Homo sapiens: one gene and its partner. The protein of the gene in region 1 interacts with the protein of each later gene in a biochemical or structural test. Each region holds a gene or a part of one and is shown on either strand. Other genes may lie near its edges.

What was found. Proteins that work in one complex are often made in the same cells at the same time.
Region 2: the proteins of PDZK1 (region 1) and OR10G3 interact in a test that uses a peptide from one of them, tested with the Homo sapiens proteins (one large-scale study listed by IntAct).

What each region holds. Positions count from the first base shown.
Region 1 is NC_000001.11:145,673,400-145,676,496, reverse strand, and holds part of PDZK1 (Na(+)/H(+) exchange regulatory cofactor NHE-RF3), read left to right. Parts: intron 1-283; coding exon of another isoform or gene 284-339; intron 340-2,170; coding exon of another isoform or gene 2,171-2,227; intron 2,228-2,615; coding exon 2,616-2,840; intron 2,841-3,097. UniProt on the Homo sapiens protein: A scaffold protein that connects plasma membrane proteins and regulatory components, regulating their surface expression in epithelial cells apical domains.
Region 2 is NC_000014.9:21,577,889-21,581,643, forward strand, and holds the start of OR10G3 (olfactory receptor 10G3), read right to left. Parts: upstream 2,189-3,755; 5' UTR 1,898-2,188; intron 1-1,897. UniProt on the Homo sapiens protein: Odorant receptor.

The DNA of each region.
Region 1 (3,097 bases):
CCCAAAGTGCTGGGATTACAGGTATAAGCCAACACGCCCGGGCCACACATTTTTTTTAAGGTGTCCTATGGGGCACAACAGGACCAGAGAAGCCATAGGGAGCTAGCTTTTGGCTTAAGAACCAACTGAAGCTGCCAGAAATGATGAGTCATTTTGCAGTTGGTGGAAAGTCAAGCAGAAATCAGAGGCGGCTGCTGCAGCTGTTTGTTGTAAAGGGGATTCTGACCCCTCCTGATCTTATCATAGAATGATTTAATTGTAATTTTTCTGTTTTGGTTAATAGAGAACTTTGATCGAAAAAGAAGCCTGCCCTCATCATCTCCTTCCCCGCTCTCCAAAGTAAGCCCTGTAGGTTGGGGTGGAGGGTAGATCTTTGAGATACATCAGTGAGTAAAACACAACCCTCTAGCAGTCCCTGGCACATACTAGACACCCAATTATCTGAATGAAGCATGAATAAAATCTCATTTTTTTTTTTTGAGACAGAGTCTCCCGCTGTTGTCCAAGCTGGAGTGCAATGGTATGTTCTCAGCTCACTGGAACCTCTGCCTCCCAGGTTCAAGTGAGTCTCCTGCCTCAGTCTCTCAAGTAGCTGGGACTACAGGTGTGTGCTACCACACCTGGCTAATTTTTATATTTTTAGTAGAGAATGAGGTTTCACCATTTTGGCCAGGCTGGTCTCGAACTCCTGACCTCAAGTGATCCGCCCACCTTGTACTCCCAAAGTGCTGGGATTTCAGGCATGAGCCACCAAGCCCGGCCAAAATCTCAAGTGTTTTAATGTTATTGCACTTTGCCTCGAGATGAGCTGCGACTGTCAGATACAGTTGATTTGCTTGTTTGGGTAGTGTTATCAGACGTATTTTTGCATGTAATGAGTCACCTGATAATTTTCCATATTTTAAAGAGAAAGGCTCCATTGTGGAACTGTTGCAAGTATATGACTGAAAGGTCTGAAGTTAGTTGAACTGGGTAACTAGGAGGTTCTGTGCTGGTGGTATTCTCACTTAGAAAGGAAGGAGATGTGGTCTTGTGGTTAGTAAGACACATGATAACCAGAGGACTAAAAATCTAATTTTAGTCAGGCTGCTAAACAGTGCGATTTGAAGTAGAGCCCACACTGTGCTCACCTTCCATTGCTTGATTTCCTACTCATCACCTAACAAATGTTCCGGACACGTGTGGGCAGCCATTTAGCTGCTGATCCAGGATCACACCATACCCAGGTCCACCCTTCTAATTGTCTCAACTAAAACAGCCAGTTAGGCTTGTAATTCTATTACAAAAAAATCAATCCTGTTTCCTGTTCTATGCCTCTTCGGTATTCAAGATCATCATTTCTTTACATGGATGGTCTGGGAGTTGATATGAATTAGGAGTATTTAAAGATGTTGGAGAGTTTGGCATAATAGAAGTGACAGCTAATGCTTACAACAATACATAGCAAAATAAATAAGCACAGATCCCAGGTCTGGAAGGGGAGGGTATTGGCAAGCAGCAAAGGGTTGGAATTAACTTTTGTTACAATATGTGACCATATAACAGCTGTCACCCTCTCACCAATTATTCCTGTGTATATGGGTTGGTCTCTTCTAGTAGCTTTGAATCTTTGGATAGTGATAAAAATAGTGTTATATTAACATTCTCCAGAGAGACAGATCTAGTAGGATATAGATACAGGTATGAGAGGAGATTAATTAGGGGAATTGGCTTGTATGATTATGGAGGCTGAGAAGCCCCACGACAGGCTGTCTTCAAGCTTGAGACCCTGGGATGCCAGTAGTGTGGCTCCGTCCAAATCTGACTGAGCCACATTACTGGCATCACCCCTGATTGGCAGTCCTACTTGTTTGCTTCTGTGCATTTGGCCTGAGAATCTGGGGGGCTGCGGCTGTAGATCTTAGAGTCCAAAGGCCGGAGAACCAGGAATTCTGATGTCCAAGCACAGGAGAGGAAGAGGGTATCCCAGCTCTAGCAGACAGACTGACACCTTTGCCTTTTCTGTAGTTCACTCAGACTCGCATGCTAATCCCCTCTGGAACCACCTTCACAGACACACACCAAAATAATGCTTTGCCGGGCTTCTAGGTATTCCTTAATCCAGTCAAGTTGGCATCTAAAATTAACTATCACAAGTGTCTTGTGTTTTACTTTTTCTAATGTGTTTAAGGAGCTCTGAAGACCATCTTACCGAAAGGAAAAGCCAGAAGAATGTACTCTGCATGAGGTACCGGCTAGTCGGTCAGATATGTCATTTCCCAACAGGGAGATTATGTATAGCTTGTTCAGTGACTTGCTCACTATCATGAACTCACTCAAAAGAAACTAGCAATTTTTTAGACTTCTTTTGGGATCCTTGTACCGCATCCTATACTGCTTTTATGTTCATGTGTGCATTTGTGTACATGTATACACATATTACTCCATAACGAAGCACAGTCTTCTTTTATACCTTTCCTGGTTGGGGTAGTAGAGGAATTTTACAGCCTACAATCAGACACATCCAGAAGAAGAGTGGAATATGTATGATACCTTAAAAATCAGCACATTTAACAAAGTATAACTTACTCATGGTTACAACTAAGTTAATGTTTTTTCCCTTTATTTTTCAAAAGGCTCATTTTTCTCCATTTCTCTACTATCAAAGTCAAGAACTGCCCAATGGCTCTGTCAAGGAGGCTCCAGCTCCTACTCCCACTTCTCTGGAAGTCTCAAGTCCACCAGATACTACAGAGGAAGTAGATCATAAGCCTAAACTCTGCAGGCTGGCTAAAGGTGAAAATGGCTATGGCTTTCACTTAAATGCGATTCGGGGTCTGCCAGGCTCATTCATCAAAGAGGTATGGTAATCTGGTTCCAGCAGCCCAACAAACACAGCCACAATTAGGATAGTCTCAGCTTTTCCCACCCATTGATGGCTTAGTAGAGAGGTTCCATTGAAGGCACACACTGAGGGGTCTCACTTGGGTTCAGATAAATGTTGTCATGGTCCCACACCCTTTAGGTTAGCTACCAGTACATCATAAGCTCACGTTTGTTTGTTTCCCAAACATCTGTTCCAAACAGTGTGAGTTGACTGAACTCTAGTTGACAGTCA
Region 2 (3,755 bases), on another chromosome or scaffold:
CTACTCAGGAGGCTGAGGCAGGAGAATCGCTGGAACCTGGGAGGCTGAGATTACAGTGAACTGAGAGCACACCATTGCGTTCCAGTCTGGGCAACAAGAGCAAAACTCCAACTCAAAAAAAAAGAAAAAAGCCTGAAGGCTTAGTAGTGTTTTTATTTCACAGATACTTAGTCTTTGAATATATTGATTAAATGTGTTTTTGAATTCTCATCTGATATCAAATATTAAAGACCATCTAGAGGCCGGTCGCGGTGGCTCATGCCCGTAATCCTAACACTTTGGGAGGCCAAGGCTGGTGGATCACCTGATGTCAGGAGTTTGAGACCAGTGTGGCCAACATGGTGAAACCTCGTCTCTACTAAAAATACAAAAATTAGCTGGGCATAGTGGTATGAGCCTGTAATCCCAGCTACACAGGAGGCTGAGGCAGGAGAGTAGCTTGAACCCGGAAGGCAGAGGTTGCAGTGACTTGAGATCGTGCGATTGCACTCCAGCCTGGGCAACAAGAATGAAACTCCATCTCAAAATAAATAAATAAATAATAAATAAACAAAATAAAATAAAGACCATCTAGTACATGAATGTTTGAAAAATATATGAGAAATATTAGGGGACCACAAACTAAATAAAAGTGTATAATTTTGAGCAACCAAGGAGATTAGACATCTTTTCTAATGAGGCGAAGGGCACAGGCTTAACCTCATTTCAGCAAATGAATTTTACTTAATTCTGGTCCCAAACTGTATCCCTAACCCATCTTTCAAATGGCCATGAAGAAAACTTTAAAAATTTTATTATTTTCTGAAAATCGACTCAAAGCACACTTTTTTATTTATAAAAAGCATTTCAAATATTTGGAAAACTAATATAATTAATTTCTTTTTAAAATAAATTTCACAATAAGACATATAAAATGGAAAATAATTTAAAGATGAATAACAATGGAACAAATATATACATATATAATATGAGAAAAGTTTGAGTTATTAAATTGAGAGACATGAGACAATTTCTATTAAAATGTAAAACCCTTATTAGCAATGAGTTAGAATTGTCTGTTTAAAATATTTGCCAACAAAGAAATCAGGTTATAGCTTTACTCATGTCCATTTTTCAAATTTTGGGCAGAGAACTTGTCTTATAGGTGGAAGGGACCTGGTGAGGACAAAAAGAACAGAGCAAGGGTGGCACCACCACAGAACTCGAAGATGCTCTTCCTAGTCTGGTTGGTATTAAAACCAGTGAATGGACTTTTAATGGAGAATAGCTTTGGAGAAAAATTTAGCCAATTAAAGGCCTGGGGGAAATAGTGTTATCCAATATTAGCCACTATTTTTTAATTTTTTAATTTTTTTAATTTTAATTTTTATTTTTGAGATGGAGTCTCTCTCTGTTGCCCAGGCTGGAATGCAGTTGTGCCATCTTGGCTCACTGCAACCTCCATCTCTCAGGTTCAAGTGATTCTCCTGCCTCAGCCTCCCAAGTAGCTGGGATTACAGGCGTGTACCACCACCCCCAGCTAATTTTTGTATTTTTAGTAGAGATGGGGTTTTACCATGTTGGTTAGGCTGGTCTTGAACTCCTGACCTCAGGTGATCCGCCCGTCTTGGCATCCCAAAGTGCTGGGATTACAGGTGTGAGCCAACATGCTTGGCCTATTAGCCACTATTTATAAAAAGGCTAAATGGTAGTTACATAGTCATATGAGCAGAACAGCAAAGAAAATTTTTGTGACAGCAGAAAAAGAACTATACTGAGTAACTAAACAAGTAAGAATATTGAGAGATGAAGTGACTCAGAGTAGAGAAACCCCTTACACAATGTTTGGACTTAACATTTATCTCTGAAAAATGGGATTAGAACAGTGGCAGGTGCTATTTTGAGAAGAGGAACTCACCTGAAGGTGTCAGCATCCATCAAAAACTCTTCTTGCAGACGGAGAGAAAGGATACAAATCTATTCCTAAGGAATCTTGAATATCTCATAGGTCAGCAGCAATTATTGTGAAGAGCTCGTGGCAGAAGACCCAACTAATTACTTTTGGCTGGATCAAAGTAAAGAGTCAAACTATGGAAACTTAATTTATTATTTGCCTGCTTATTTGTAGAGATATCTGCTTCCAGCTTCCTTATGAACTGGGGGAGGAGCTGTGGCTCTTACTGAAGATAACTGTTAAGGTTGGTCTCTCCTGTGTTCTACTACTTCTTCTATTTCCCTCAGAGTCAGTTTTTATGTGTGAGACCTTTAGCTTGGGGAATATTGTAATAGCACTCCTGTGATAGGCAAGACCAATATCCATAGTTTGTTTCCTAGGAGACTCTCTGGGTTTCTAGCTTTTTCCAATTTTGTAACAGCAGGTGCGACAAAGTCTGTGGGGCTTAACAGGTCTCGTTGAAATCTTCAGATCTGTGGTTTTCTTTCTGTTCCAAAGCAAATTTGGAAAAAAAGAGAAGAAAAAGCTAACATGGTTGTTACTTGGCAAGAGATGTGTTCTTATTGGTGCATTCACATTTTAAGAAATTCACACTTTGAATTACTAAGGTGCTAACATAGACCTTCACAGACTAGAAGAAACAGAATTTCAGGGTTGGAGGGACATTAGAGGTCATCTGATCCAACTATCATCTGTAATGTTTTAAGTCAAGCTCCCTGAACAGTGATTTTTCTTTTTTAATTTTACAATTTTATTTATTTATTTATTTTTTGAGACAGGGTCTTGCTCTGTCGCTCAGGCTGGAGTGCAGCGACGTGATCACGGCTCACTGCAGCCTCATCCTCCTAGGCTCAAGCGATTCTTCCACCTCAGCCTCCCAAGTGGCTGGGACTACAGGCACATACCACCACACCTGACTAATTTTTAAATTTTTCGTAGAGACGAGGTCTCACTAGATTGCTCAGGCTGGTCTTGAACTCCTGGGCTCAAGTGATCCTCCTCCCTCTACCTCCCAAAATGCTGGGACTACAGGTGCAAGCCACTGCCCCCGGCCTGTTATTTTTCTTAGTATTTCTTGGTCTTGTTTCCTTGAATACTTTGAATTTGGTCTAACTTATTTTCTTCTAGACTTAAATTTGGTGTTGTCGCAACATTTTTCCCAACTGTCTTCAAATGTCCAGAGATGGTCTGTGTTGTAAAAGAACATCTTGAATATGGTTTAGTTTTATTATTTTTTCCACCAAACTTTTGTGGAGGTCTCTGTAGCTTCCAAGCCACAATTGTGTTAAAGTGTCTAAAGCAGAGGAAAGCACACTTTCTCTCTAAAGAGGCAGATAATAAATGTTTTTGGCCTTGAGGACCATACAGTCTCTGTTGCAGCTACTCAACTCTGCCATTGTATGGGAAAGCAGCCATAAAATACACATACAAATGGGCATGGGTTTTTTTTTTTTTTGAAACGGAGTCTCACTCTGTTGCCCAGGCTGGAGTGCAGTGGTGTGATCACGGCTCACTACAACCTTTGCCTCCGGAGTTCAAGTGATTCTCCTGCCTCAGCCTCACGAGTAGTTGGGATCACAGGCACCTACCACCATGCCCAGCTAATTTTTGTACTTTTAGTAGAAACAGGGTTTTACCATGTTGGCCAGGCTGGACTAGAACTCCTGACCCCAGGCAATCTGCCCGCCTCAGCCTCCCAAAGTGCTGGGATTACAGGAGTGAGCCACCTAGCCCAACCCCGGCATGGTTTTATTTATTTACTTAATTATATACTTTACTTATAGATACTATAATTTGAATGTCATAATTTTCATGTATCATG